Linked DNA regions of Homo sapiens: all the other regions are linked to region 3. The links come from fine-mapping of genetic effects on gene expression. A gene starts in region 3. Each other region holds a variant in brackets. All regions are shown on one strand. Distances are between the middles of the regions. Region 1 holds the start of LOC100130357 (a long non-coding RNA gene). Region 2 overlaps PHACTR1 (phosphatase and actin regulator 1). Region 3 holds the start of TBC1D7 (TBC1 domain family member 7). Region 4 overlaps PHACTR1 (phosphatase and actin regulator 1). Region 5 overlaps GFOD1 (Gfo/Idh/MocA-like oxidoreductase domain containing 1). Region 6 overlaps PHACTR1 (phosphatase and actin regulator 1). Region 7 overlaps TBC1D7-LOC100130357 (TBC1D7-LOC100130357 readthrough).

What was found.
Region 1: its variant is fine-mapped to the expression of TBC1D7 in whole blood (TOPMed, PIP 0.99).
Region 2: its variant is fine-mapped to the expression of TBC1D7 in whole blood (INTERVAL, PIP above 0.99).
Region 4: its variant is fine-mapped to the expression of TBC1D7 in whole blood (TOPMed, PIP above 0.99).
Region 5: its variant is fine-mapped to the expression of TBC1D7 in whole blood (TOPMed, PIP above 0.99).
Region 6: its variant is fine-mapped to the expression of TBC1D7 in whole blood (TOPMed, PIP above 0.99).
Region 7: its variant is fine-mapped to the expression of TBC1D7 in whole blood (TOPMed, PIP above 0.99).

What each region holds. Positions count from the first base shown.
Region 1 is chr6:13,293,396-13,297,471 of GRCh38, forward strand. All of the region lies in intron 8 of TBC1D7-LOC100130357 (TBC1D7-LOC100130357 readthrough), which reads right to left. It overlaps LOC100130357 (a long non-coding RNA gene), which reads right to left and starts at 2,191. Exons shown (of 5, transcript NR_160971.1): 1 at 2,091-2,191; 2 at 1,880-1,993; 3 at 1,401-1,503. The variant T/C (reference allele first, on the strand shown) is at 1,875.
Region 2 is chr6:13,132,424-13,136,499 of GRCh38, forward strand. The region is part of intron 5 of PHACTR1 (phosphatase and actin regulator 1); the gene reads left to right. Among named protein-coding and RNA genes, the nearest start is that of TBC1D7, 190 kb to the right of the region's middle. The variant T/TAA (reference allele first, on the strand shown) is at 2,372.
Region 3 is chr6:13,326,491-13,330,554 of GRCh38, forward strand. TBC1D7 (TBC1 domain family member 7) reads right to left here and starts at 2,047. Exons shown (of 8, transcript NM_016495.6): 1 at 1,806-2,047; 2 at 297-416. The coding sequence starts at 408. It overlaps TBC1D7-LOC100130357 (TBC1D7-LOC100130357 readthrough), which reads right to left and starts at 2,047. Exons shown (of 9, transcript NM_001318809.2): 1 at 1,966-2,047; 2 at 297-416. The coding sequence starts at 408. It overlaps LOC124901261 (a long non-coding RNA gene), which reads left to right and starts at 2,125. Exons shown (of 2, transcript XR_007059457.1): 1 at 2,125-2,408; 2 at 3,235-3,367. RefSeq lists a silencer at 1,863-2,252 and an enhancer at 1,886-2,392.
Region 4 is chr6:13,264,572-13,268,647 of GRCh38, forward strand. The region is part of intron 10 of PHACTR1 (phosphatase and actin regulator 1); the gene reads left to right. It overlaps TBC1D7-LOC100130357 (TBC1D7-LOC100130357 readthrough), which reads right to left. Exons shown (of 9, transcript NM_001318809.2): 9 at 1,965-3,264. Among named protein-coding and RNA genes, the nearest start is that of TBC1D7, 62 kb to the right of the region's middle. The variant G/C (reference allele first, on the strand shown) is at 1,918.
Region 5 is chr6:13,378,988-13,383,063 of GRCh38, forward strand. The region is part of intron 1 of GFOD1 (Gfo/Idh/MocA-like oxidoreductase domain containing 1); the gene reads right to left. Among named protein-coding and RNA genes, the nearest start is that of TBC1D7-LOC100130357, 52 kb to the left of the region's middle. The variant G/A (reference allele first, on the strand shown) is at 1,837.
Region 6 is chr6:13,284,463-13,288,538 of GRCh38, forward strand. PHACTR1 (phosphatase and actin regulator 1) reads left to right here. Exons shown (of 15, transcript NM_030948.6): 14 at 1,684-1,760; 15 at 2,601-3,375. The coding sequence ends at 2,616. The region is part of intron 8 of TBC1D7-LOC100130357 (TBC1D7-LOC100130357 readthrough); the gene reads right to left. The region is part of intron 3 of LOC100130357 (a long non-coding RNA gene); the gene reads right to left. Among named protein-coding and RNA genes, the nearest start is that of TBC1D7, 42 kb to the right of the region's middle. The variant A/G (reference allele first, on the strand shown) is at 1,823.
Region 7 is chr6:13,305,475-13,309,474 of GRCh38, forward strand. It overlaps TBC1D7-LOC100130357 (TBC1D7-LOC100130357 readthrough), which reads right to left. Exons shown (of 9, transcript NM_001318809.2): 6 at 2,126-2,271; 7 at 924-1,053. It overlaps TBC1D7 (TBC1 domain family member 7), which reads right to left. Exons shown (of 8, transcript NM_016495.6): 6 at 2,126-2,271; 7 at 924-1,053. Among named protein-coding and RNA genes, the nearest start is that of TBC1D7, 21 kb to the right of the region's middle. RefSeq lists an enhancer at 1,767-2,966. The variant C/T (reference allele first, on the strand shown) is at 2,118.

The DNA of each region.
Region 1 (4,076 bases), 33 kb before region 3:
CTCAGGTGATGGGAGCACTAACATCTCAGAATAAACTACTATATATTTTATCCATGTAACAAAAAGTCACTTGTGAGGCCGGACACAGTGGCTCACACCTGTAATCCCAACACTTTGGGAGGCCGAGGCAGGTGGCTCACCTGAGGTCAGGAGTTCGAGACCAGCTTCGCCAACATGGTGAAACCCCATCTCTACTAAAAATAGAAAAAATTAGCTGTGTGTGGTGGTGGGTGCCTGTAATCCCAGCTACTTGGGAGGCTGAGGCAGGAGAATCACTTGAACCCGGGAGGGAGAGGTTACAGTGAGCTGAGATCGTGCCACTGCACTCCAGCCTGGGCAACAAGAGCAAAACTCTGTCTCCAAAAAATAATAAAAAGCCACTTGTACCCCAAAAGCTATTGAAACATAAATAAATAATAAAATAAAATACAGATATACTAATTTTTGAAAAAGGTTCTCCCACCTGGATGACGGCAGCCATGATCTTTCTGCCTGTGGCCTCAGCATCCAGTCCTGCCATGAGAGTCATGTCTCCCAACTCAGATGGGCTCACCCCACCCTCCCTCTTGGTACCTGCCTCCACTGTCTTACCCATCAAGCCCCACTCTGCAGTGTGGCATCCGTAGTGACAGTGTGGCCCTTGCTCACTTCCGCCAGCCTCACCTCCTGTCCCCTGCTACATCACTCTGCTCAGGCTTCCCAAGCAGACCCTTCTGGTGCGTGTGACCTGGGAGTCCTGTGAGGGATGCTATTGATGTGGCCATGTTGTGGTGACCACCTCAGGGACAATCAGGGTTTAACAAGGGCCCTCGGGCACTGAGCAACTAAGCTTTCCTGAAAGGAGTCCAAGAGAGGTCTCATGTAGGCAACCTTGGAACTCAATGAGAAGCATACAAAGAAAAAAAAAGTATGAACAAATAGCTGTCTCTTCTGACACCTGGCAGGTGGCGGCCCTGATTTCTAACTCTGGCTACCTGGTCACTTGATCCCTACCAACAGCACCACTAACAGCTCCCACACAGTAAACACTTACCGTACCCCAGGCACTCTGTTAGGCCATCTTCATGCACCATTTTCTTTAACCCTTACGACACCTTGGTCACCGATGAGGAAACTCAGGTCCCCAAACAACAACGTGGGCAAAGTCACACAGATGGTAAGTGGCGGAGGGGCTTCCAAACCCAGGTCTGCCTGACTCTAAGGCAATGCCCTTAACCTCCCTGCTACGCTGACGTGTCGTGGCTTTCCCTCTACCTTCTTGAGTTCACACTTCCTCAGCATCCATCCAGTTATCCCATTTGCCTGTCTTGAGTGATTACATAGTTTTCTGACACTGAGGATCACAGACGGAAAGATCATGGACTGCCTCCAAGCCCCGGCTTCCAGCTCCTCCCTCTCACCTCTCATGCACAACTTTGTCTGTGATTAAGCTGAGTCTCCCGCTTCTCCACTCCGTGGGGACCTCCCACAAGCATTTGACAGTCAGCCAACATTTATGCCTTCCTGCAAGGGAAGCAGAAGTCACGAATGAGGCACTTGTACAGTGTGGGTCCTACCTAGAGCTGTTGCAAAGGCAGGAAGAGAAGGGCATGCTACCTAATGAGAGAGAAGAACACCAGACACTTCATCGTGTGTGAGCGTCCAGTCCCTTACCTAGAGGCTATTTTCTGGGGGGGAAAAGGGTTCTGCTCCTAATCAAATAATGCTCTCCACATTTCATAATAGGGAGCCATGATCATCCACTATTTCCATGGGCAACACTGCAGAGGAAGGCAAAGGGCTCTCATTAATTAAACTAATGAATTCATCTGCAGGAGACAGGAAGAGTAAACCACGGAAACAGAATTGACTAATTCTTCTTCCGTTAAGATGCA[T/C]CTACCCTGAGCCAGAATTCCAGAACTGGTTCCCCTCCTCATCCATGATGAAGACGCTGCGGCTCATGTGGTCACAAAGGCTTGGTGTTTCCTATGTGGAGATACCATTGCTGTTCTACCTTTAATCAACAAAACAAAACAAAACAAAAACGAGAAAGAGAAATGGTAGAGGGAGGGAGGAAAATGCTGTCTGTTCCTTAATCACCAATCACCAACCTGGAGTGGTCACTGACACCTTGTCCAGTGTGGCAGGGGGGTCCCTGGGGTCCATGGTCCTGGGGTCCATTCAGAGCCCCCACCCAGAAGAGGACAAGCCAGTCTTCAGCTACACAGGTAAAAAAACACTTCACACATGGATTGAACTTCTTATCTCAGACAGTCCTGACCAGGGACGGCATCAGAGTAAAGGCTTTGGTCTCACGCAGCAACCCTGTGGCCAGTCCCCGCAGTGTGGCAGGCCTGCCACTGTGCGACCGAGGCCGTCATGCATGAAGCACATCTGGGGCTTTATGGCTCAACACCTGAGCCTCCTGGAAGGCCTTGGCCGCCTCACTGAAGCCCCAGCGTACCGGCTCTGCAAGGCCCTGGGGTTAAAATAGCAAAAATGCCATCTGGCAAGAGGCTGGCTTTGTTCAGACTGTGTGCTGCGTTGTCGCTGGGGTGGTGGGGACATTTTCCAAGCCACCATTAGAATATGAGCTGTCACCTGGGCGAGCCCCACTCCCCCATGCCCCCAGCCCGCTCGTCAGCATCCACGCAATCATGGCAGGAGCCCCTGTGGCAGCTGAGCCACCTTGGGTTTTCCTCAATTCCATCTCACTGACTTGGTGATGACAGCCCCAAAGCAGGCAGGACAAATCCCCTCTTTCTTCCTAGAAAAGTACCTGAAATAACACGCTCATTGTTAGACTCCAGGAGTTGGTGCTGAGGAAGGGTCCTTGGGGCTGGGACACGGAGAACAGCCACCGGTCACTGTAGACCCTTTTGTCCTGGCTGCCTTTCCCCTCTATTGGCACATGTTCCTTTTCCATCAAAAATTTAGTTACAATTATTTTTTTAAAATAAGAAGACCAGAAAGAACACACAGGGCTGACTGCCTTTTGTAGGACAAAACTCGAACAGGGAAATTTAACTTGCGTGTAACATGCACACCCAGACGACCTTATTTCAATCATACCCAATTTTAAAATCCAGGAACCGGCCACAGTAAGGAAAGGCAGGCATGTTTCAGGCTGTCCAGCAGCTGGGCAGAAAAACGGAGACCCACTGGGCCAAACAGTGAGAGGCTCCAATTGAGCCATCCTAGTTCAGGTCTCCCTAGTGACCCCCCTCTGTGCGGGGAGGTAAGTGCGTCTCTTGATATTTTTAGTTCACTGTAAAGACATGGTTTTTGCCCTCCAGGAATCAGCTAGCTATGCATGAGCGGAAACCCTGCAGGTGCCGAACGTAACTGATTGGAGTGGGGAGGAGGGGAAGGACAAAGAGTGACAGCTTCAGGTTTGGAGAGTAGTTGAGTGATATTAGAAGCAAAAAGCATCTCTGATTTGGACAGCAGAGGTGTGCACAGTTCTGCTGTGGTTTCAATCTTACTATAGGCCCCAGTCAACAGGACAGCACAAATGCTCTTTTTTTGACCGGACATTCGGCTGGCTCAGAGCAAGTAGCGGGGTAGAGTCACTTAGATTTCAGCAGCAAAGCTGTGCGGGGAGGCAAGATGCTGCCTGGGCTGCCTCCCCGGCCTCAGCATCATGCCTAGGTGGAGGAAGACGCCAAGGCAGGTTTCTTGAGCCCAGTGGAAAGCTGCTTGTGCTGCCCCCAGCTCCCTCCCAACAAAACCAAAGGCCATTCATGCTAAAAGGGTCACTTAGTCCAAACCTTCTGGTCACAACAGAGGAAGGTGCTCTGCTGCCCTCAGCACACCAAGGGGGGACACCCCTAAAGAAAGCACTAGAAGGTGGGGTGCAGTGGCTCATGCCTGTAATCTCAGCATTTTGGGAGGCCGAGGTGGGTGAATCTCTTGAACCCAGGAGTTCGAGACCAGCCTGGGCAACATGACGAAACCCCATCTCTACAAAAAATGCAAAAAACTAGCTGGGCATGTGTCTGTAGTCCCAGCTACCAGCTACCGGGGAAGCTGAGGTGGGAGGATCACCTGAGCCCAGGAGCTCGAGGCTGCAGTGAGCTGTGATTACACCATTGCAC
Region 2 (4,076 bases), 190 kb before region 3:
TGCAGACACCCGTGCTCTCCCACTGTCCTCCATGTCTTGCCCGCAGCAGATGCTTACTAAGTGTCTATTCACGATGTCATGGTTTGTGACATAGTGATGGTGATTCCTATTTTTAGAGAGACCACTGAGATGTTGCAGGCTTGGTTCCAGACCACTGAAATAAAGTGAGTATTTCAGTAAAGCAAGTCACACACATGTTGGTGTTTCTCAGTGCATGTAACAGTTATGTTTATGCTACACTGTAGCCATTAAGCATCATGTCCAAAAAACAATGTACATACCTTAATTTAAAAATACCGTATTGCTAAAAAAAAAAAAAAAGTGAATGATCATCGGAGGCTTCAGCAAGTCATAATCTTCTTGCTGATGGAGGGCCTTGATTCTATGTTGATGATTACTGACTGATCAGGGTTGCTAAAGGTTGGGGCGGCTGTGGCAATTTCTTGAAATAAGACAACAATGGAGCTTGTAGCATTGATTGACCCTTCCTTTCATGAACGATTTTTTGGCACTATGTGATGCTGTTTGATAGCATTTTACCCACAATAGAACTTCCTTCAAAATTGGAGTCAGTCCTCTCAAACCCTGCTGCTGCTTTCTCAACTAAGTTAATATAATATTCTCAATCCTTTTTGGTCATTTTAAGAATGTTCACAGCATCTTTATCAGAAGTAGACTCCCATCTCAAGAAACTGCTTTCTTTGCTCCCCCGTAAGAAATCCTAGATGGCATCTTCCAATAGAAGGTTATTTCGTCTCCATTGAAAATCTATTTGGCCTCCCCCTCCCCCTCCCCCTCCCCCTCCCCCTCTCCCTCTCCCTTTCCCTCTCCCTCTCCCCACAGTCTCCCTCTCCCTCTTCCTCTCCCCACAGTCTCCCTCTCCCTCTCCCTCTCTCTCCACGGTCTCCCTCTGATGCCAAACGGAGGCCGGACTGTAATGCCGCCATCTCGGCTCACTGCACCCTCCCTGTCTGATTCTCCTGCCTCAGCCTGCCGAGTCCCTGGGATTGCAGGCGCGCGCCGCCACACCTGACTGGTTTTCGTATTTTTTTTGGTGGAGACGGGGTTTCGCCGTGTTGGCCGGGCTGGTCTCCAGCTCCTAACCGCAAGTGATCTGCTAGCCTCGGCCTCCCGAGGTGCCGGGATTGCAGACGGAGTCTCGCTCACTCAGTGCTCAATGTTGCCCAGGCTGGAGTGCAGTGGCGTGATCTCGGCTCGCTACAACTTCCACCTCCCAGCCGCCTGCCTTGGCCTCCCAAAGTGCCGAGATTGCAGCCTCTGCCTGGCTGCCACCCCGTCTGGGAAGTGAGGAGCGTCTCTGCCTGGCCGCCCATCGTCTGGGATGTGAGGAGCCCCTCTGCCCGGCCGCCCAGTCTGGGAAGTGAGGAGCGTCTCTGCCCAGCCGCCATCCCATCTAGGAAGTGAGGAGCGCCTCTTCCCGGCCGCCATCCCGTCTAGGAAGTGAGGAGTGTCTCTGCCCGGCCGCCCATCGTCTGAGATGTGGGGAGCGCCTCTGCCCCGCCACCCCGTCTATGATGTGAGGAGCGCCTCTGCCCGGCCGCGACTCCGTCTGGGAACTGAAGAGTGTCTCTGCCCGACCACCACCCCATCTGGTAGGTGAGGAGTGTCTCTGCCCTGCCGCCCCGTCTGAGAAGTGAGGAGCCCCTCCGCCCGGCAGCCGCCCTGTCTGGGAAGTGAGGAGCGTCTCCGCCTGGCAGCCGCCCCCTCCAGGAGGTGGGGGGCAGCCCCCGCCCGGCCAGCCACCCCGTCCCGGAGGGAGGTAGGGGGCAGCCCCCGCCCCGCCAGCCGCCCTGTCCGGGAGGGAGGTGGGGGGCGCCTCTGCCCGGCCGCCACCCCGTCTGGGAAGTGTACCCAGCAGCTCATTGAGAAGGGTCCATGATGACGATGGCGGTTTTGTCGAGTGGAAGGTGGGGAAGTGTGGGGAAAGGAAAGAGAAATCAGATTGTTGCTGTGTCTGTGTAGAAAGAAGTAGACATGGGAGACTCCATTTTGTTCTGTACTAAGAAAAATTCTTCTGCCTTGGGATGCTGTTAATCTATAACCTTACCCCCAACCCCTTGCTCTCTGAAACATGTGCTGTGTCCACTCAGGGTTAAGTGGATTAAGGGCGGTGCAAGTTGTGCTTTGTTAAACAGATGCTTGAAGGCAGCATGCTCCTTAAGAGTCATCACCACTCCCTAATCTCAAGTACCCAGGGGCACAAACACTGGGGAAGGCCGCAGGGTCCTCTGCATAGGAAAACCAGAGACCCTTGTTCACATGTTTATCTGCTGACCTTCCCTCCACTATTGTCCTATGACCCTGCCAAATCCCCCTCTCCGAGAAACACCCAAGAATGATCAATAAATAC[T/TAA]AAAAAAAAAAAAAAAAAAAAAAAAAAATTATCACAGTAATTCCATGAGGCAGGGGACTCTACGTCCATTTCAGGGGCTGATAAACTGAGATATAGAGTACTTAGGTAACCTACCCGAGTACACACAGAGCCAGAGCGTAAACCCCTTCTCGCTATTTCCAGAGTCAGGCTCTTCGCCACTTCACCATCCTGCATGTCAGGAAAATGAAATATGAAGAAAATTGCCAATTCTTCCATTGTTTTACTAGAAGATAACTGAGCCACTGACTGAGGCTCTCCTGTGCCCACTAGCTCACTGCTCTGACTGCGTTTTATTGGAAATTTCAGCTAACTCTCACCACCTCCCACTAAACCGTTTTCCTGAGGGCAGAAATCCATCTTCCAGCTGTGAATCAGGATTTGCCACAAGAAACCCCTGCCTGCCTCCTAACACCTGCCATTCATTAGACACTGAATCCGGTAGGGCAGTCCTGGGATCTGAAGGTCTTTAGATCGCCAGGGCCACGTTTCTGGGAGGCTGGTGTATTTGGAACCGCCCTGTCATTCTGGGAGCCCTGTGCGTCCCCAGCTGCCCTGCGGAGTCGCTGTTAGACATTGTACACCTGCCCTGCACCCCGGATGCAGACTCCGTAATTCTTCAGGTCAGCCCCAGTTCATGCAACTGACTTTTCTCAATCAAAGGCATTTGCCAAGTGTTCAAGGATTATTACAGCGATTTATTACACTGAGAAGACTTTTCATCTGGATACATTTGCAAGTCAAAGAAAACCGTTTCTTAGCCCACAGGTCTTAATCACTTTGTTAATTTTAAAGCAGCTGTGACCTTAAAATTCAGTGCTATCAGTAAAGACAATATATAGAGACAAAGACAGACAGAGATAAAGACAGAAAGAGACTAATGTGGAAAACACATTTTAATTTTTTTAATTAAAACGTATTTTAGGCCAGGTACGGTGGCTCATGCCTATAATCTCAGCACTTTGGGAGGCTGAGGGAAGGGGGTATGGCTTGAGCCCAGAAGTTCAAGACCAGCCTGGGCAATGCATTTCTCTAGAGACCCATCTCTAGGGGAAAAAATAAAAATAAAAAATAAATAAAAATGTATTTGAAATAGAAAAAAAAAGAGAAAATGTCCATAAGCAAATAGTGGAGGAAAAAAAAGTCACCCTGTTCAGAAACAACTACCTTTAGTGTTTTAATGTATACCCTTCCAGATATTTTTGTCTGCACATGTATTTATATAAAAGTGAGATTATAGCTGCCACTTTTAACCTGCATATTATTATACCATTCTTCCAGCTTTCCATGCTTCTTGTCATTATTCTCACTGTACTTTACTGGAATTTTCCATCATGTTTTTTGACCCAAAAGTATTCTATAAAATGAACGTATCCTAAAAAAAAAAAAGAAAATCTATTTGGTGTAGCCACCTCAATGCTCTTAGCTAGGTCTTCTGAATAACTTGCTGCAGCTTCTCCATCAGCACTTGCAGCTTCACCTTTCACTTTTATGTTATGGAGACAGCTTCTTTCCTTAAAACTCATGAATCAAACTCTGCTGGTTTTAGACTTTTCTTCCACAGCTTCCTCACCTCTCTCAGCCTTCATAGAATTGAAGAGAGTTAGGCTTTGCTCCGGATCAGTCTTTGGCTTAAGGGAATATTGTGGCTGGGTTTGATCTTCTATCCAAACTATTTAGACTTTCT
Region 3 (4,064 bases):
AGAGTTATCGCAAATTTACCCAGAAGCAAATTTACCTAGATAATACATGAAAACATATGGGTTCAATAAAAGAAAAAAATACTACTGACTTTCTTAAGAAACCTTTCAAAAACTTCTGACGCTCAGTGAAATATAAATTTGAAAAATCTTTTCTCAAAATACACCATTCTGCTTCACCACATCACTAAAAAATACAGCAAGTAACCAATGCTTCTGGATGTCTTTTAAGAAAATATTTACTTCAGAACATGTGGAGTGATTGAGAACCAATGAGATTAATTTTTAAAAGTACTCACCCAGACGGTCATCTTTTAGGAGAATTTCTAATGATTTCTTTTCTTCAACTCCACGAAACCCCACTTTCTCATAATATACTGAACGAAAGTTTCTCTGAGAGTCCTCAGTCATATTTCATTCTTGGAGGAGACACAGAAAGACAGAAAGGGAGAGAAAGACGAAGGGGAAAAGTGAGTCTAGAAACAAAGAGTCAAGAATTAGAATAATTTTCAATGATGTTCTCCACCTTTTCAATATGATGTACCCTTGCATAGGACCCAATATTAAATTTTTCCTTTAACTCAGTTCTGCAACTATCTCACCTATGCATCTTGGCTAAAAACCAAGATATAAGTTAAAAGTTCTCTGAGCTGATAAAATAGATGGCACAAGGTTTATGCACTAGGTTTCCCACTATACCTATGAGTGCCTAGCACAATAGAACATTCTGTAGCTATTATAAATGCGCAAAGAAAAAAAATAAGTGAAATGGAAGCCAGGCAAGATACGTCAAGCAAATTATACTCAAACAGTATACACTATGATTTCATTTTTTGTTTTTTACAAATTTCATGTATTTTAAAACTTAACACTCTATTCCAAAATGTTAGCAATGGTTATCTTTAGATAGTAGGATTCTAGATGATTTTAATTTCCTTTCTTTTGCTTAGCTACTTTTTTTTAAATGGGCATTTTGTAAAATGAAAAATTAAGTTATATAAAAGTAAAAAGCCACGAGTTCCTCACTTATCTTTCTTTTAAACACAATTCTATTAAGTGTAGCTATCGAAATTCAAAACCCACAACAAATAAATCGCATTAAATTATAACTAGAAGAGGGTAAAGAATGTAGCCAATTGACAGTGATCCCAAAGTCAGAGTTGAAGACGGAAAAACGATTTAAAATCTACCGCAAGAACTCAAAAAGTTCAGTGGTCTCAAGTTCCTTCACAGTAACCTTCATAATACTGGCGGTAATTCATCCAAAAAAAGACCAAGTTAGATTTGGCGTTTCAAGAACAGAAAAGATCTGATGCATTTCCCAAAAAGCACTGCACTGCCTCACCCAAATGCTTCCAGCGTCTGTGCACAAAAGAGTAAATCTTTAGGTTTAAAAACCCTGCGACGTCCCCAGTGAGCAGGGGAGGGCTTCCTTCCTTATTGAAAAGATATCCTCTGAACCGATTCAGTCACAGGAAAGATTAGGATTCGTTTAGAAAATGAAATGCTAAAGGGCTCTGAGCTTTCGGGAGCAGATGTCTTAAAAATAAAAAAGTCAGCAGCATAAAACGCGTAATGAGTGTGGGGATTTATTTTTTTAAAGCATCCAAACAGCTGCATGACGATTTGGTCGGTCCCTGTTGTCTAAGGACACCCATTCTTAGATTGCACTACAATGACAAAGGCGTCCTCTAGGAGGAAATGCTGCAAATAATATCTCCTGCCCATGCGCGTCCACCTGATGGGAAAAGTAAAAACACCCTGGTCCAAGACCCCAGGTCCCATTCTCTCTATGATGGATGCTTCACCTCTAGTAGTGCAAACACACCCGGGTTGAGACTAAGTGGTCCGGGAGAAGCAGAGGAAGCCGTGCCCTGTGCGCTGACCGACCGCCGGGCAGGCGGGCACCGTTGGGGCCCAGGGCCAGGAGGGACGAGTCCTGCGGGAAGGAGGGAGGCGGCGGGGTACCTGGGACACCCGCGCGCGCCCAGACGGCCCGGGAGACAAAACTCAGCGCCGCTGCCGCTGCCGCTGCCGCCGCCGCCGGACGTGACATCAACTCCAGGTCGCCGGGCGGGCGCCGGGCGGGCGCATGCGCAGAGGGCGCGGGCAGGAAGCTCCACCCTCACTCCAGGAAGCTCTGGCTTCGTTTGTGAAACCCGACGGGATGAAGGGCTAGGCTCGCCTCCAGAGTAGTGTAGTTTCTCCCGCCGTGGGCACCCGGCCCCTTGCTACCCCGCAAAATCTCGCGACCATTTACTCTGGCCATCCGAAGGCGCGTGCCTGGGTTGCACTCCCGTGTCCGGCCCTCGAGGTTCTTGCCTAGGGAAGACCCGAGCCCTAGGGCCGTACTTAAGCTGCCTGCGTGCAGGACCCGGGTTTTGCTTTTGCTAATTTCCTCCCCACCCCAGGTATGTGGGAATAGATGAAGACCATCCGAATGAGAAGAAAAAAGGCAGGCAGAGGAGTGCAAGTCTGATTTAGAGCAGGCAGGCTCCCTGGGTTGGTTATTGTAGGTAACTGACTGGTTTTCTGGGCAGGTTGCTGCAGGTTGTGGATTGGAGGTCTATTTTTATATTAGATTTGGCCATTGTCTTAGTATATTCAGCCTCTCAGGTAAAACACTATAACATAGGAGAAAAATGAACGTGTTTTTTTTTTAAAAAAAGATGTGCTAAATGCAAGCTCCTAATTTGTTATTAGTAGGTCTAACAGAACAGAGTTACTCTTTAAAGTAGCTACTAACACTTACAAATGCTTTCTATTTCTGTGCTTGCCTCCCTGGTCCTCGGGCTGGCTGAGCAGCAGTGCCCAAGTAGGTTTTTAAACCGCCAGGGTTTGAGAGAAATCCCCAATGATGGGTATCGTCCCTTTGAAAGTTCAAATCTCTACCAAATAAGCCACACGGATGCCAAGCTTTGAAGGAAACTTAGGACTATCAACAGTGCAGAAGTCCAGTTATAGTGCAGACAAATGTGTGTATAATGGCTAGACAGAACTTAAAAATGAAGAAACGTGTGGTGGTTGAACTCAAACACTGATGCCCCTCCCCACTCCCTTACCACCACCATCTTTAGTTCCTCAGTACTGGGGTACTAAACCTTCCTTGGGTAGTGTTCACATGAGTAAGCAGAGTTCTTCAAGTTACCTTACACAAGTTCCATTTACTTCATCTAAACCTTGGGCCGGTCACTAACTTTTATAATTGCCTTTTCTTGTCTTTAAAATCATCACCAGGGCTGGGCACTTACTGTGTGCAGGCGCTGTTCTATGGACTCAGGATACATCAGCTACCGAAGCAAAGATCCCTAACCTTGTGAAACTGACATTCTGGTGGGAGGACAGATCCAATAAAAACTAAAATAAATAAGTCAATGATGTAGTGTGTTAAAAAGTGATCGGTGCTGGCTGGGCGCCGTGGCTCATGCCTATGATCCCAACACTTTGGGAAGCCGAGGCAGGCGGATCACCTGAGGTCAGGAGTTCGAGACCAGCCTGGCCAACATGGTGAAACCCTGTCTCTAGTAAAAATACAAAATTAGCTGGGTGTGATGGCACACACCTGTAATCCCAGCTACTCTGGAGGCTGAGGCAGGAGAATCGCTTGAACCCGGAAGGCAGAGGTTGCAGTGAGCTGAGATGGTGCCGCCGCACTCCAGCCTGGGCAACGAGAGAAATTCCATTTCAAAAAATATTAATAATAAAATAAAATCATCACCAATGGTGATTATATAGAAGGTGGGAAGGGTTAAATGAGAAAGTATGTAAAGTGCTTGGCATGGTGCCTGGCATGTGGCACAGTAGGGATATATGTGAATTGGCTGTGTCAAGATCAATTAAAAATGCAAAGATGAGTCTCTAAATCATTTTATTTGGGAAAACAGAATTGCAGTTCAGGGCATACACACAGACTGGGGTGGTCTTCAGAACAACAAAGAGATGGTTGGAGGTTTCATTAGAGAAATGTTATGTATTACCTTGAAAGATAGCTCATTGACCCTAAGCAAAGTTTTTAGGAACAGGCAAGCTCTAATTTGTGAGAGAAGGTGGTAAGTAAAACTAGTCTT
Region 4 (4,076 bases), 62 kb before region 3:
TAGCTGGTGTGGTGGCATGTGCCTGTAATCCCAGCTACTCGGGAGGCTGAGGCAGGAGAATCACTTGAACCTGGGAGGCAGAGGTTGCAGTGAGCCGAGTTTGCACCACTGCACTCCAGCCTGGGCCACAGAGTGAGCCCTCATCTGAGAAAAAAATACGATACAATTTGGCCAGGTGTGGTAGCTTATAACAGTAATCCCAGCACTTTGGGAGGCCAAGGCAGGAGGACAGCTTGAACCCAGGAGTTTGAGACTGGCCTGGGCAACACAGAAAGACCTCGTCTCTACCAAAAATTAAAAATTAGCTAGGTATGGTGGTGCATGCCTATAGTCCCAGCTGCTCAGGAGGCTGAGGTGAGAGGATTACTTGAGTCCGAGAGGTTGAGGCTGCAGTGAGCCAAGGTGGTGCCACTGCACTCCAGCTTGGGTGACCAGAGTGAGGCCCCATCTCTGAAAAAAAAAAAATAATAAAATAAAATAAATAAAATAAAATTCCACCACAGCCTCCTTCACTTCTACTTCTCTCACCCGCTTCAAAGCCAGGCTTCGTGGCTAAGTCCTCCAGCTTCGGTGCATCCATTTTTCCACCCCTGTCCTCAGCCCTCTCCAATCTGGCTTCTCTTCCTGCCACGCCACTGAAGGGGCTCTAGGTGTTGTCAGTAACAGCCTCCATGGTGCTAAACCCAGTGGGCATTTTTTTCAGGCCTCATCTAACCTTACAGCAGCTCTCAGAACTCTTTGTGGGCCATACCTATCATCTTACTGTTAACGAAAAGATTGACATGCAGGTCAAAGGCACTTATTTGGGAAGCAAAAATGGCAGCTGGGGTACACCGGATCAGGGCAGCCCTGAAGAGTGCCCTATAAGGCAGGCTGCAGGAGAGAATTTTTAAAATAGAGGATTGTCATAAAAAGTTATTTTCGGAAGTAGTTCATTGGCCAGGCAGAAATCCTAAATCACAAAGCCGTTGTGATTGGTTAGTTAATGAGAGTACTCTCAGCTGAGGTGTTGAAGGCCAGCAGATGCTGACTTCAGTTGTTTGACCGAGTCTATTGGAACATCCCCTGGGTTTGACCTTCAGCAGGTGTGAGTGCGATCCTCTTGCAACCTTCGACTCCACTTCAGAAAGCCTTAGCATTAGTTACTATATTTTCTTTCCCATTACGTTGCTTCCATGATATGACATTTTAGTCCTCATCCTACCTCCAAGAACTCCCCTCCCCAGAATCCATGGCAGGGTCATCCTCCTTAGTCCATGCATTAAATACTGGAATTCGGCAAAGTTCCATCCTAAGCCCTCGCCTCTTCCCATTCTCTACTCTCTCCATACTCATGGCTTCAAATATTGTCTATATTGCAGACTAGTCTCAGATTTCTATCACTGGCCTAGTCCTCTCCTCTCCACTGAGCTAAATGTATCCTGCTGCCTACATGACAGCTTCATTCATATGTCTCAGGAGCATTCTGATGTAACAGATCCAAATTCAAATTCATGGTTTTCTTCCACTCTTCCTTCACAAACACGCTGGTTCTCTTGCAGTGTGCCTGCCTCAGTGAACAGCATTCCCATCCATCTAGTTGCATGAGTTAGAAAACCTAAGGAGATATCCTGTACACCTGCTTCTTCCTGTCCATTCACATATGCTACCTGACTTCCTAAGAGCTTGCACATCACTGCCACAGCCTCGCCCAAGCCTCCACCATTTCTTACCAGGTGTGCCAAGCCTCCCAAAGCCTCTGCTCGGGTTTCCTCTTGCCTCCCCCAATCCCTTCTCCATATAATAACCAGCATGATCTCTTTCCACTGTAAGTCTGATCATTTCATTCACTCCTCCCCTCTCACACCCTAAAACTTAAACTCTTCAACGGCTTCACATTGCTCCTAGAAAAAGAAGATCTAAGTCCCGGAAGCATCT[G/C]TATTAGGCCATTCCCACACTGCTGTGAAGAAATACCTGAGACTGGGTAGTTTATAACGAAAAGAGGTTTAATTGGCTCACAGTTCTGCAGGCTGCACAGGAAGCATGATGCTGGCATCTGCCTCTGGTGAGGCCTCAGGAAGCTTCCAATCATGGTGGAAAACAGAGGGAAAGCAAGGAGTCTCACATTGGAGGAGCAGGAGCAAGAGGGAAGGGTGCTACACACTTTTAAACAACCAGATCTCGCGAGAATGCACTCAACTCACTAGAACAGCACCAAGTGGTTGGTACTAAACCGTTCATGAAAAACTACCCCCATGATCCAATCATGTCCCACCAGGCTCCACCTCCAACACTGGGGACTACAATTCAACATGTGATTGGCAGGGACACAGATCCAAATCACACCCACGGCATCTGGCCCCTGCCCTCCTTCCCACCAATCTTCTCTCCTTACTCTCTGCCCAGAAGGAGCATCCTTCTTCCATCCCTGAGCTCTGGGCACAGTGTCACTTCCTCCTGGAAGCCTTTCCTGACCTCCTGATTTGGTCAGATCCAGAGATCCCTGCACCAAGTGCCTCACCATGGAAGCCCTTACTCCAGCTACATTTTGCACTCATTTCTGTGACTGTTTGATTAATGGCTACCCCCATCCTCTTCCAGTCTTCTCTGTTCCAGAAGGGCAGGGACTGGTTTTGCTCATCACTGTACTCTGGTACCTAATGTAGAACCTGACACAGCACTGGCACTAATAAGTAACTTGCTAAATGAATGAATGGGTTTACATTTGAATGTAACTGAGTCTGTGGCACCCATTTCTAAAACAGGTCTTGATAGGAATGAGATAGAGCAAGAGTGATAACATAATTCTAGGAACTCGAGAGGGGAGGACTCCAGGGAATAGAGTCAATGCAGAACCACAGACACTTTATCTTCTTCACAGTTTTGCCTTGTGCCCAGTGAGCCCCACTTCCATGTGGCTGCTGAATGGTTTTTTTCTGACTCACCTCTTGCTGGCCAACTGAGATGCTGCAAGAATGTACAGTGCCTTCTACATGGGCAGTGAAAGTCTAAGTCACGCCCAACTTGCTTGTTGTTTTGAGGATATTTTATTACATGCCAGTCCTTGGAAACTGTTGATCCAGTTTTACCTTGCACATTGTAATCACAGATGTGCACCTCTAGGCTGTGAGCCGCTTAAGAATGTGTCTGGCCCTTCATGTGGCCCGTGGTTCATGTTGGGTAGATTAGCAGATGAAAGACTTAGGAAAACAAAAATTGGAATTCTTATCATTTGATCTCAGCCAGCGTCTCAAACTCAGAGGCCCTCGGGGGTCCAGGAATGATCTGAAAAAAAAAAAAAAAAAAAAAAAAAAAAAAAAAAGCAGGACAGATGTGAGCGTGCTCACCTGTATTACATAAGTGAGGCCTGGGGAGAGGGCTAATTTGATCACACACTCTGTCTAAAGGCATTCAGGCTCAAAAAAAGTATAACCAGCTGGGCTCAGTGGCTCACACCTGTAATCTCAGCACTCTGGGAGGCCGAGGTGGGTGGATCACCTGAGGTCAGGAGTTTGAGACTAGCCTGGCCAACGTGGTGAAACCGCATGTCTACTAAAAATACAAAAATTAGCTGGGCGTGGTGGCACACACCTGTAATCCCAGCTACTCGGGAAGCTGAGGCAGGAGAATCGCTTGAACCTGGGAGGTGGAGGTTGCAGTGAGCTGAGATTGTGCCACTGCACTCCAGCGTGGGTGACAGGGCAAGACTCTGTCTCAAAAAAGAGAAAAAAGTGTAACCTCTGAGCATGCCAAAGAGAACTGATAGAGTCAAATCCAGTGCACCAGGCATCAGTTTGCAACCTCTGACTAGTAAAGTATCATAGTTATGGCAGACAAAATATTGGCCACCCTTCCACAAGATGTCCACATCCTCATCCCCAGATCTATGAATATGTAACGTCCCAGGGCAAAGGAGACTTTGCAACTGGAATTCAGTTAAAAATCTTAAGATAAAGATTAAATGAACTAACATATGTACAGTGCTTGGAACCATACCCTTACATTATAGGCATTAAATCAGCCTTAGCTTATTAAACTAGTATTTATGATTTGCAGAGAAAAGAGCATAGGCCTAGCAGGATCTGATACCTTGTCTG
Region 5 (4,076 bases), 53 kb after region 3:
TCCTGCAGCCAGGAGGCAAACCAGCTCCAGGGCTCCACCCACAGCAGGTGGTAAACATGATTAACGTGCTACTGCCCAGAGCACTTTCACCTGCACCAGCTCCAATGGTAGACGCAGTCTGTGCCAAGGCCCAGGGAGTGGTGGGAAGATGGTAATCGTAAAAACTGACAAGTAACCTACAGTGCAATAATTGAGTGTTTGTGTGTTTGGGGGAGGAAAGGTAGTAGAGATGTGTGATTTTGGGGAGCTGCCCAGCCCCTGAATCTCCTTGCTGTGATTGGGAAATTTCCCACCTGAGAGTCTTGGTGGGTGGTACAGCCTCCCCCCATAGAAGGCACGCCAGCTGTTTGCTTTCCCAGAAGCCTTTGCAGCAAAGCCATGGGCACACAGCCAGGCTTGGCCAACCAGGGACACCACTCTGGCCTGGTACATGAGAATGGAGGAAGGTGGAGATCTGTGCTGGCAGTGGGGGTAGCAGCATCTAGTTTCTAGGGCTGTGATGCCCGTGATGCAATGACGGCTTCTATCACCCAGCACCAGCACCACTGCAAGCAACCGACTCTGTCTACACCTGATGGGTTCTCTGGTGTGATCTGGACTGTGGTTGCAGCTGCCAAGCCTTTCTTTGTTCCTTGTGTTTCTCAAGCTGACTTCCCCAGCCTCTCATACATTTCCGTGAGGAACTAAGGTCCTTTCAAATAATTCCCTTCTGCTAAAATCAGCCAGGTAGTTTCTGTTGTTGGCAATTTAAATGCCTCTTGAGTACAACAGGTTTCCAAGCTTTCTGGACCCCTTTCTGAAAAGATTGATTTGGACATGGAGGAAGCTCTGAGTGCCTATTAGTAAAGCAGCCCAAGATCTAGTGTGATTTGTCAGACAGGGAAGTGAAATGAGGGTCAGGGGACGTGGATTGAAATTCTCACCTGGCATTTGCAAGCCATGTGGCCCAAAGAAGCTTAGTTCACTTACCTGTAAAACTGGAATAATAACACCTTCTTCAACAGGCTGCTTTGAGGATGAAAGGACAGATGGGCACTGTCCTGACCCATGAAAAGTGCTCATAAATGTCTGCTCAAGTCAATAACAGACCCAAATAAAAACTACACAGGTCAGCTCTTAGAGCTGCAAGAATTCAAAACAAGTTGGTGGCAGGGAGGTAAGTGCGTGGCAGCACAGGGGATGGGAAAGATACAGACTCAAAAGCTACGTGGGTTCTAGATCTGGCTTTGCCACTCATTCCATTCCGTCTGTGAAACAGAGCTGATATCTGGTCCTGCCAGCTTTGTTAAGACTGCTGACAGTATGAAATGAATAGTATATGGGAAAGTTTGTGGAAGGAATAGGCCTACTGCAAGAAGAAAGTTATTACTGAGATGTAGTTACAAATAAAACCAAAGAATACACTTACTGTAGGGCTCTCTTCCAGGGATCCCTGGGCAGATGCTCTTATGAATGAAAACAAAATGCAAAACTGCAGCCCCCAGATCTGCCCACGTGAATATCATGATGGGGTGCTGGCGGGAGCAGCTTAGCGAATGTCAAGTTCAATTTATGACATACACACACCCCTGGCGGAGACTTGTGTTGGCATTGCTGGCTGGCTGGGGTGGCCACAGGGAGTCAAGGCTGGAAAAATGGAGGGTAGAGGTTGCCTGAGCACTTAGCTACACACATTATTAACTGCTCCCAGGAAATAAGGAAGGCTTAGCTAGCTATGCAAGGCTGTAGATTAAAACTCCTCTTTCCAAATCACAAAACCTCACTTTTGGTTGCAAGCTGATATTTTCATAGGTCTATGCTACCATCCTCACTAGGCTGAGGATCGCTGGGAAATTC[G/A]TCTTATCAACAGAGCTCAGAAACCTCAGAAATGGGCAAGGTGAGACACAGAAGTGGGGAGTGTAAGGGAATGTTTACAAAGCATCTGACCCCAGATTGCCCAGGCTTCCTCCTGCAGCCCAGAAGCCAGCAGATTTCTTCCCTCCTACAACCTCTTATCTCCAAGGGACAGTGCTTAATGTTTCACCTAGGGACCCAATGACAACCACTGAGCTGAATGAGATGGGGGTTTCAGCAAGCCCAGCTATCCAAGGCTGAAAGGCTGAAATACTGCTCACTCCTGGGGGTGGAGAGCAGTCATGCTGCCCCTGGTGCTGGCTGGGCTGAGTCCTGGTGCTTTGTTTTCTTTTGCAACAATATGCAAAAATAATGCAGACTGTTTTTGAAGACAGAAACCCAGTTGGCAAGAACTCCCAGAAAACTGGGTGCACCTGAATCTGTGTTGGCCCCAGCAACACTCATTCAAAATCTGAAAAGCTGGAAGCCCACAGCCTGCTTGGTGATGTCAGGTGGCAGCAGCCCCATTTTACAGACAAGGAAATGGGCTAGGAGTTAAGTTTTCATATTTTCTCTTCCACCTAATACAGTGAGGCCCTAGAAGAGGCCAGGATACAGGTAATAAAGGCTCCAGCCCCTGAGAAAAGGGTCCCAGCGGAGCTGAAAAGGTTCCCTTCTACATCCTGGGGATGCTTCCATATGGAAAGGACTCACTGATTCCCAGGAAAGGGTTCTGCATGGACACAGTGCTGGAACAAGTCTGGCCTGGGGCTCCTGGACAATCAGCCACTCATCACATTTGCACAGGACTTGGGTGGAGCATGTGGGAGATGTCTAGATGTCTCAGACACTGCAATGCCCTAAAGGTGTGTCAGATGCAGAGAACAAGGACAGAGGCCCAAGTGTGGCTTGCTTTGTGCTCCAGTGGGAAGGGGTGTGGACAGGTGGTTTATCCCCTCCCCTCCTCCTCCCCCAAGCCCTCAGCCACCCTCCTCTCATGAACACCTCCTCCTGAGACAGGTCACCATGCTCAATCACACTGAAGTCTAAAAGTGCCCCCTGGAGTAAGAGAAATAAAACACACACGCGCGCGCGCACACACACACACACACACACACACACACACACACACAAACTTGCTGACTGAAGCAGTAACTACCACCAAGTACCTGCGAAGTGCTTTGTAGGAATCATCTCACTGAATCCTCCCAAAACCTGAAGAGGTTATTGTCCTTCCAATTTCACACACAAAGCCAAACCCTCAAGAGTCAAGGCCCAAGTTCACATCCTAGTAAGTGGTTGAGCCAGGATCCAAACCCCCATAATCTGGCTCTGTGTATCTGTGCTTATCTTGATTATAATATATTACAATATTGAATGCAATCTGGCAGCCAGTCAAATATGATGGTGAAGAAATCATGTTGTGATATGGTCTGGCTGTGTCCCCACCCAAATCTCATCTTGAACTGTAGCTCTCATAATTCCCAGGTATCATGGGAGGGACCCAGTGGGAGGTAATTGAATCATGGGGGGGGGGGTTCTTTTCCATGCTGTTCTCATGATAATGTACAAATCTCATGAGATCTGATGGTTTTATAAAGAGAAGTTCCCCTGCACTCACTCTCTTGCCTGCCACCATGTAAGATGTGACTTTGCTTCTCCTTCACCTTCCACCGTGATTGTGAGGCCTCCCCAGACATGTGATACTGTAAGTCAATAAACCTCTTTCCTTTATAAATTACTCAGTCTCAGGTATGTCTTTATTAGCAGTGTGAGAACAGACTAATACAAGTTGGAATTGTGGATTTTCATGTAACCATTTAACCCCACAGACTTTTAAAAAAAAATTTTATTTTAAGTTCCAGGGTACATGTGCAGAATGTGCAGGTTTGTTACATAGGTAAATGTGTGTCATGGTGGTTTGCTGAGCCTATCAACTCATCGCCTAGGTATTAAGCCCAGCATGCATTAGCTATTTTTCCTAATGCTCTCCCTCCCCCAACCCTACTCCCCAACAGGCCCCAGTGTGTGTTGTTCCCCTTCCTGTGTCCATGTGTTCTCATTGTTCAGCTCCCACTTATAAGTGAAAACATGCAGTGTTTGGTTTTCTGTTCCTGTGTTAGTTTGCTGAGGATAATGGCTTCCAGCTCCATCCATGTCCCTGCAAAGGACATGATCTCATTCCTTTTTATGGCTACATAGTATTCGAAGGTGTATATGTACCACATTTTCTTTATCTAGTT
Region 6 (4,076 bases), 42 kb before region 3:
TCCAAGGTCACACCATTGAATTCCAGCGTGGATGACAACAGTGAAACTCCATCTCAAAAAAAAAAAAAAAAAAAAAAAAAAATATATATATATATATATATATATATAGATACACGTATATATATATATATATACTGGAATAATGATTCTGCCCAATGTGTAGGTAACGATAGAAACTATGGAGTGTGTCAGGGGCCTTCTGCTCAACAGTCCTGCCTTCACTGTCCGTTTCAGGGACCCAGGGTTTTCTTATATGATACAGCAGGAAGTCATTTATGGCCCAGGCTGGCTACATTATCACCAACCCTGGATCCAGGAGGTGCAGGAAACATGTATGCAGGCACATTGCTGCACTTGGCTGGGACGGAAGCAGCAAGAGGCAGATAGACTTCCAGAGACGACCTCGCCTGTGGCGGGTCAACCCACAGACACCATGTGTGGAAGACTGTGCCCTCCTCTGTAAACACAGCATTCACATCTTCTCTGCAAGGGAATTTGTGGGAGCAACCCAGGAACTGGCATTGCCATGCCCCTGACAGACAAACCCAGCTCCCCAGGAGTGTGTCATCTAAATACGAAGAGGAAGGGGCTTTCACTCTTGTCCTCTCCTGTCCACACTCTCTCTGCGGTATGCTTGCAAGGATAAGGATATTAGCAAGTGTGCAAGAAAACCACAGACATCTCTACTTGCACCCTCATAGAGTTCTGAGTAGCTCTTAGGCCGAAAACATATCCAGTTTCTCAATGGCTGTTGGGGACAGAAGACAGGAAGCATGGGGTGACCCCTGCCCCCACCCCCAAAGCTGCTACCCAGGCACTTAAACCTAAGCCAGCCTTCTTTTCCTGGGGAGGGCCATTCTGATCCTACAGGAAGACTTTTCTCTCCTCAAACTCCTGGGGCCTTGATATTCCCATCAAAGCAAGTATCGGCCATAGACAGAGCTATGCAAGAAGGCACACGTTTGCAATTTCCACCCTTGAGGAAGGAGTGAGGTTGTCTCTGGCCCCAGCTGCCTTCTTTACCAGCCCCTCCTCCTCCCCTGCTCTCTCATGGCCTCTCTTTGCTGTCTGATTCCAGGCCCTGTGTCTTCAGTGGCAGTATTATAAGGATGGGGTGATTCGGGATCATCTCAGAACATGTGAGGTTATTCAAAATGTATCTCACATGGTGAAATACATCACTGAAGAGTCAGGGAAGTTGTAAAAGAGCAAAAACAAACTGTTGGTAGGGAGCTGGCCATCACCTGTCCCCCTAATTTGGTTGGAGAATTTGATCCACGCCTTCTGGAAGTCTCCACCTCGAGGCATCACTGTGCCTGTGCTGAGCTTTGTTTATTTATGGAAGATGAGAGGTTGACATTGAATGTGTTCTTGGGCCCCCAGGAGTGTGGGGTAGGTGTACACCACCACTGATGCCTCAATGCCACAGCTCTATGAAAAGAGGAAGAAAAACACACTTTGGGCAATAGCCTGTCATCATTTGCAACTTAGATTTAGGGAAGGAGGGGAATCTTTGTTTTAAAGGACATCTCAGGTGATTTTTCTTCCTCCCAATGAAAGAATCCATCTTAAACTTGTTTGTCTTTGTTGAAGAAGAAAAATATGTTGTTAGGAATGAACTGAAAGGGGAGTTTTTTTCTGTCTCTCTCCCATTGCACATTGATGGGCTTCTGTTGATTCCAGGCTGCCATCCGAAAGGAGCTCAATGAATTCAAAAGCACTGAGATGGAAGTTCATGAATTGAGTAGACACTTAACAAGGTTAGTATTAAGGGTTTTTTTTTTCCTTTTTTTCCCTCAAGTTGCAATATTTATCTCCAAAT[A/G]AAGCTCTCCCACTTGTGGGACATGAGTGGGTTGGAGGGTGCCATGAGAGGGAAGATAGTAGGAAGGCAGGCATGCGGTTCCACTTTAGGTTACTGAAACGAGGAAGTGGAACACAGATGGCCCGGGCTAAAACCAACTTTCTGCAAAGTCTGAGTTTCACTCATTTAAACTAAAGGTCTGATAAGCACCAGACTACCAACGACCCCAAGGTGGGTTTTTGTGAAAACTTAGGTCAAGGAGAAAAGATTGTTGCCAATTTGCAACCAGTCAGCAGAGGCCAAACCTGAACAAAATACCACATCCACACGGGACTTCCAAAGTGGACCACTTCTGTTATTCCCTGACATTCTCCCTGACAGTCCAGCATCATGATGATATTTGGGAAAACCGAGGCATGGAGTGATTAAGAGGATTATATAAGGTTGCATTGCTAGTTAGCAACAGAGCCATTGATTTAATTCTGACTTTCTTTTGGGGGGAACATTTAGAGAAATAGGATATAGCAAGTATTTAGTCTAGAGACTCAGAGACACAGATTGGGTTCTGCACCTTGCTGCTGGATCCAGGCTGATGGCAGGAGGTGGAGGCCACCAGGGCTGCCCCAGATGAAACTTTCAAAGCCAGGTGTGTGTTCAGTGGTACTCCTGTGGGGATGACGGTGGGAAGCTCGCACCTCCCTCTCACGGTCAAGAACCTCCCTGAAGATGGGAGATTGGACTGTTGAATCCTGCACCTTTGGCAGCCCCTTGGTCTTGATGTAATTGTTTGTTTCCTTAGGTTTCACCGACCTTAACAGTCGAATTCCTCTTGAGTGCTATGCTGTCTTCAAAACATAAATTTATAAGAACCATAAGTGCTGGTATTTATTCACTTCCCCATTACGATGTAAATCTTCTGAACTGCCTTTTTTTTAAAAAGAAGAAAAATCAAGGAAACACAATCAGGATTTTATGTGTGAAAACGCAAAAGTGATGGCTCGGCGGTCCGAGCTGCTGGTCCCACTTCTGACACCAAAATGCATCCCAACCCCCGGCAGTGCCAAGGGCACCAGCAGGGCCCTGACTGAAGACTGTCTGGCAGGTGGAACGGTCCTTGTCCTCTCCAGCCAGGCCCAGCAGGCACTACCTTCATGAAGTCTCCAGCAAACCTCTTCCTCACAAGTGTCTGTCATCTGAGTCCAAAGAAAGCTGAAGGGGTGGGTTTGTTTTGGGGGTACTGTGCAAAGCTAATGATCTGGTTGGACTTCTACACTTGGCCAAATGTACTGGCTCCAGACATGACATTTGGTTTGGGGGCCCTTTGAAGTTGATGCCAAGAAGGAGTGAACACTTCTCAGTTGCCCCTGGCTTTTCCCTCCTTTCAGCCACCACCCACACAATGAACAAAAGGGAAGGGCCCATTTCTGGGGGAGTCTGGCTGCCTCTTGGCTACGAAGGCTGGCACTGAGCACCCATCCTGCTCCCTCTGCCTGAGCTGAGCTGCCTTTCAGGAAGCTCTGGTTTAGAAGGGGAAAGATGTCATATGCTCAGTTCAAATAATCAACCCAACTGTGTCCAGAGTGTCCAGTGTCATGAGTGACCCACGCACACACACAGCCATTGCTAAGGTACTCCTGTGCTGTTTATAAGTCTGAGTGGGAGGACCCTATTGAATCCTGTGGGGTCAGAAACTGCTTGGCTGACATTTATTTTCTCTGTGCGCCTTGAAGCTGATTATATGGCTTGGGAGTTCTTAGCTTCTGTGTATAGGACCAGTGCATGCAGGCCAGAAACCACTCCTGTAGGACTGGCTTTCCAGCCACTGAGGGACTTGGAACCACTCCATGGCCTTCTCTTTTTTTTTTTTTTTTTTTTTTTTTTTTTTTTTTTTGCACTGAAGAGTTTCTGTGAAGGAGCCCCAGAGTTGGGCATGTGCCAGAATCAGGCCAACACCAGCCACACCTGTCCACAGTGCCCCTTCCTGCTCCAGTTGATCCAGAGAGCTCCTCCCTCTACCCTCATGATGCCAGGGAGCGTGACTGTGGGTGTGTCTCTGACTGGGACACCCAGGATAGGGTGTGCGATGAGGCCAGGACCCTCCTAAACCCTAACAGCATCCTAACGAGGCCCATTGCAGCTTTCGATTTCCTTCATAACAGAGCTCGCAGGCCCTCAGTTGCAGAGCTCTCTCACCTTCTGGAGTGACTCCATCGTTACTCCAGTCTTTCTAGGTGGTGGAACTCTCCACCACACATGCCATTTAGAAAGACGCCAG
Region 7 (4,000 bases), 21 kb before region 3:
CTGACTTCACAGAGCTGTTCACAGTAGGACATGAGGTAACCCATGGAAAATACTTAGCACAGGCTTCGCACTGCTAGCCACCTCTGGTTATAATGATGATTATTCATTTATTCAACGCATATTGACTCAGTACTTTATTATAATTTACCAGGCCATTTTTCAAATGTTAATACTATTTTAAAAATGAATAGATTTTGGATTCTGTGAAAATCATTCAGGCATAAGTCTCTTTAATCCTACTTCTTGCCTGGTAAAGGGTATTCCAAGATACATAGCGAGGGAAAAGTTAATTTCATTACCATTGCCTTTTTCAGCAATATACTAGGTTAATACTGTATATTAATAAACCCAACTGGGACTACACCAGAGACAGTAACAGAAATGAAATGGCTTACAAAATCCTCCAAAATACAGAACCCCTTTTGAACTGACAAAAATTACTCATTGTAAAATGACAGATCCCACCTATTCCTTTTCCTGACATGCCTGCTGATAGTCACATGGAGGATGAGACTCTGGTTCTAAGTGGACACATTCACGAGATGGTCTCAGACCATCATTTCCCAAAGACAGGATGCAAACTAACCCTCAGGCCAACTTTAGGCCAAACTTTTTCAGGGAAAAGTGTTTCTTATAATGTAAAAATACACTGTATGATTTCTCTGAAATAATCTAATGTAACAGGAAAATCTCACTTGCTAAAGTGACTTCATTTCTAGATTCAAAATCAAATCAAATTATTATTTCTCTTAAATAATTTCCCTAAAATAATCATTATTATAATTATTCTCTGAAACATTCTAAGGTATTATTTCTCTAAAATCATGTAATTATTTCTCTGAAATAATCTAATGTAACAGGAAAATCTGACTTGCTAAGGTAACTTCATTTCCAGATTCAAAATCAAATCAAAGCACACTTACATTTTCCAGAAACTTTGTTATCTTCTCTGCACTGTTCAGTGCCATAACTTTTATTTTAAAGGTTAATAAAATTTCGACAGCTACAAAAACTAGGATCTTACAGGATCCACTCACAACTTTATCCCAAACCCTACAAAAATAAGGAGATATAATCAAATTATATGAGTTTCAGAATTATGTTTAGCCTAGACATCTCAAATTACAAAATAAAATCAAATTGCTCCAATTTTATGTAAAAGCTTCAAAGAACAACTTTTATGAAATAATCACCAAAACAACAACAAAATACAGAAGCCATTTGAAATCTATTCTAGATACAATCAGCACTAGAAGGAGAAAGGAAAGTTTACTAAAAATTACTGCTCCACTAGGAATCTACCAAAATCATATTCCCTCATGTTGTGAACCTGACATTTCTGAGGAAGAAAAAGAAAATCCTAAACTAATGGTTTATATTCTGCTAATATGCCATAATGCTAATATAATTATAGCCTACTAAGGGACAACAAAAGATGTATATGAAATGGGATAAATTCAATTTCATTGCCAGTGATTCTGGGGACAGACTCCTTAAACTTCTCCAAGGGCGTAAGGAGCCAGTTACTGATCTATAACCACTCTAAAATAATAATTCTGATCATTCCTGTAACTCCTAAAAGTTGGTATTCTACTTCATACACTTAGTTACATATTATCTTATAATGTTCTCTGTGTATTGCACTGTTCAGTGCCATAACTTATTTTAAGAGTTACTGTTCTACTACATCACAAAGTCTTAATGGGTGGCACCTGGACTCCGAAATACCCAGACATGTCTGAAACTGACTGGAAGAACTTAGTCAAATCTTTGACTGCTTTCAGCTTCTTTAAAGATATCATGATGAAACTAACACTAAGATTTCTACTGGAGGAAGATTTGTCACATTTCTGGAAAAAAGGGGCTGACGCTTATATAAACTCATGGAGACCATTTGAGGTGTGACTGCTTCACAGCATCTAACGCACTGAGGGCCCTTAATTTTTCTAATTGTATATTCAAGAATAAGCAGAATCATGTGCTGTTACGGTAGCTGCTGGAGGACTGAGCTTCAAATTACTGTATTGTTCTAAAGCAAATTTATAATCTGAGGGATGACCACATGAAAGGCCAGAACTCTGCTCTAACGCCAAGCCTTCAATATGTCTTCGAAAGAC[C/T]TACTTGCCTCTGTAAACTGGATTCAGGCAAACATCCCGCAAAGCACCTCTTGAACCAGAGATCATAAGGAAGTTTGGGCGCCGCGGAACACATCCTCAGATGAGTCAGCAGTCTGCCATCTTCCAGATTCAAGTATTGTTCAAACGCTTTTGGCTAAAGATTAAGCAAGAACAGAGATTATTCATTTTCTGTGTCATAACATCATCTGATATTATAGTCTCTGATGAAAAAAAAGTACATGCTGAATTCAAGGAAGTATTAGAAAACAAAACTTCAGAATTATCCAAGTCACTTGTGACACAGCAGTTTCCTAGGTCAGCCCTAACTAAAGTAACAAACCATCCAGGACTGAGGAGTTTCCCAGGACACAGGGCTCTTTCAGTGCTAAAACTGAGGCAGTCCCAGGCAAAATGGAATGGTTGGTCACCCTAATACTAACTTCACTAGCCAGATTCAACAGCCTAAGGCAAAAGTCCAAAGCAAAATTCAGTTGTTCTGAGGAGCTAAGGAAGGCCCATTATATTACTGGCTGGTCTAGAGCAGCAGATTATATACTAAGGAAAAAAGGGGGAAAGAGGAAAGGTAAAACCAAAGAAATAGAGTGGGATTAGAGTGGGGAGAGGGCATTAGGAAGAGTAAGACAAAAAGTGATGGTGATGAGAAGGGGCTGACCAGTCACTGACCATACATACACTGCCCTGGATTGAGCACCACTGTGCACCAGTGCCAAGCAGGCTCACACAACAGGGATGTCCAGAGGGTGAACTCTGTATTCAACATAAATGTGCACAAGAATTTCTTAGAATTCAAGGGATAACTCAGAGGGAACAAAGCACCTGGATTCCACTTGGTAGCCTCTCTCATGAGGTCAGGTGGCAGCCAACACTAGAAGACTGGAGAGCTAATAAAGCCAGCTCCCCAAACCTGGCCAAATCCATCTTGCATTGGCTGCTATATTTAGGCTGGCTGCTATATTTAGGGTCCACTGGCTGAGAATGGGCTCTAAGAGTCAAATCCTAAAGTCCACACTCACTATCTGCAGGAGTACAACCAGGGCCCGCATCACTTAAGCAAATGTAATGTTTATTTTACTCAATATCTATACCTCTCTGCTTCTGTTAAAGAGGAGATTCATCACCTTTACAATGTCCACTATAGTCAGAGACTGTGCTACACACAATGAATGGAGTGAAAGGTAAGAGAAAATCCCTGCCTTCAAGGAGCTTACAGCTTGAGACATACTAGTAAAGAGGTAACTACAATACACTGTAACGCTGTGATGCTATGATGGGAACAAGCACAAGATGTTGGGTACATCCAGGAGAAAATCCTAACCTGGGCTGTAGGAGGCAGAAGCAGTTTCTCAGGAGAGGTGACATTTGAGCTGACCTCTGAAGAACAGACAGGAGTTAGCCAGGCAAAGAGGGGCCCACATCATAATATCTGGTCCAGCTTTCCCCTTTCTGTTTCAGGATATCTCTTCTTCCTGTTTATCCAACCTCCCTATACTGCTCAACGGTTCCTAGAATTTCTCAATAACACTGCAGACAACTTCCCAAACAAGGAAATTTGGTTGGTTTTGCAAAGGGGATATATGCACTTTTTTCCTATTGACTTGGTTGAAAACACACACACAGAGTTATATATTATGTCTCAGAGCAAAGAAAATTTCATCCAAAAGTCAGTACAAATAATAAACAAGATGGAGATGTGTGAACATTTTAAAACTATGTATTGTCTTTTTCCTTTATCAGACAATAAGCTCACGGGGGGAAGCTACTGTATCTGTTTTGTTCACTGCTGGTTCTTCAGTACCTAGCACATCACTTGGCATGGTAAGCACTCAATATATAACTGTTGAGTGAGCAAATCAATACTGTGA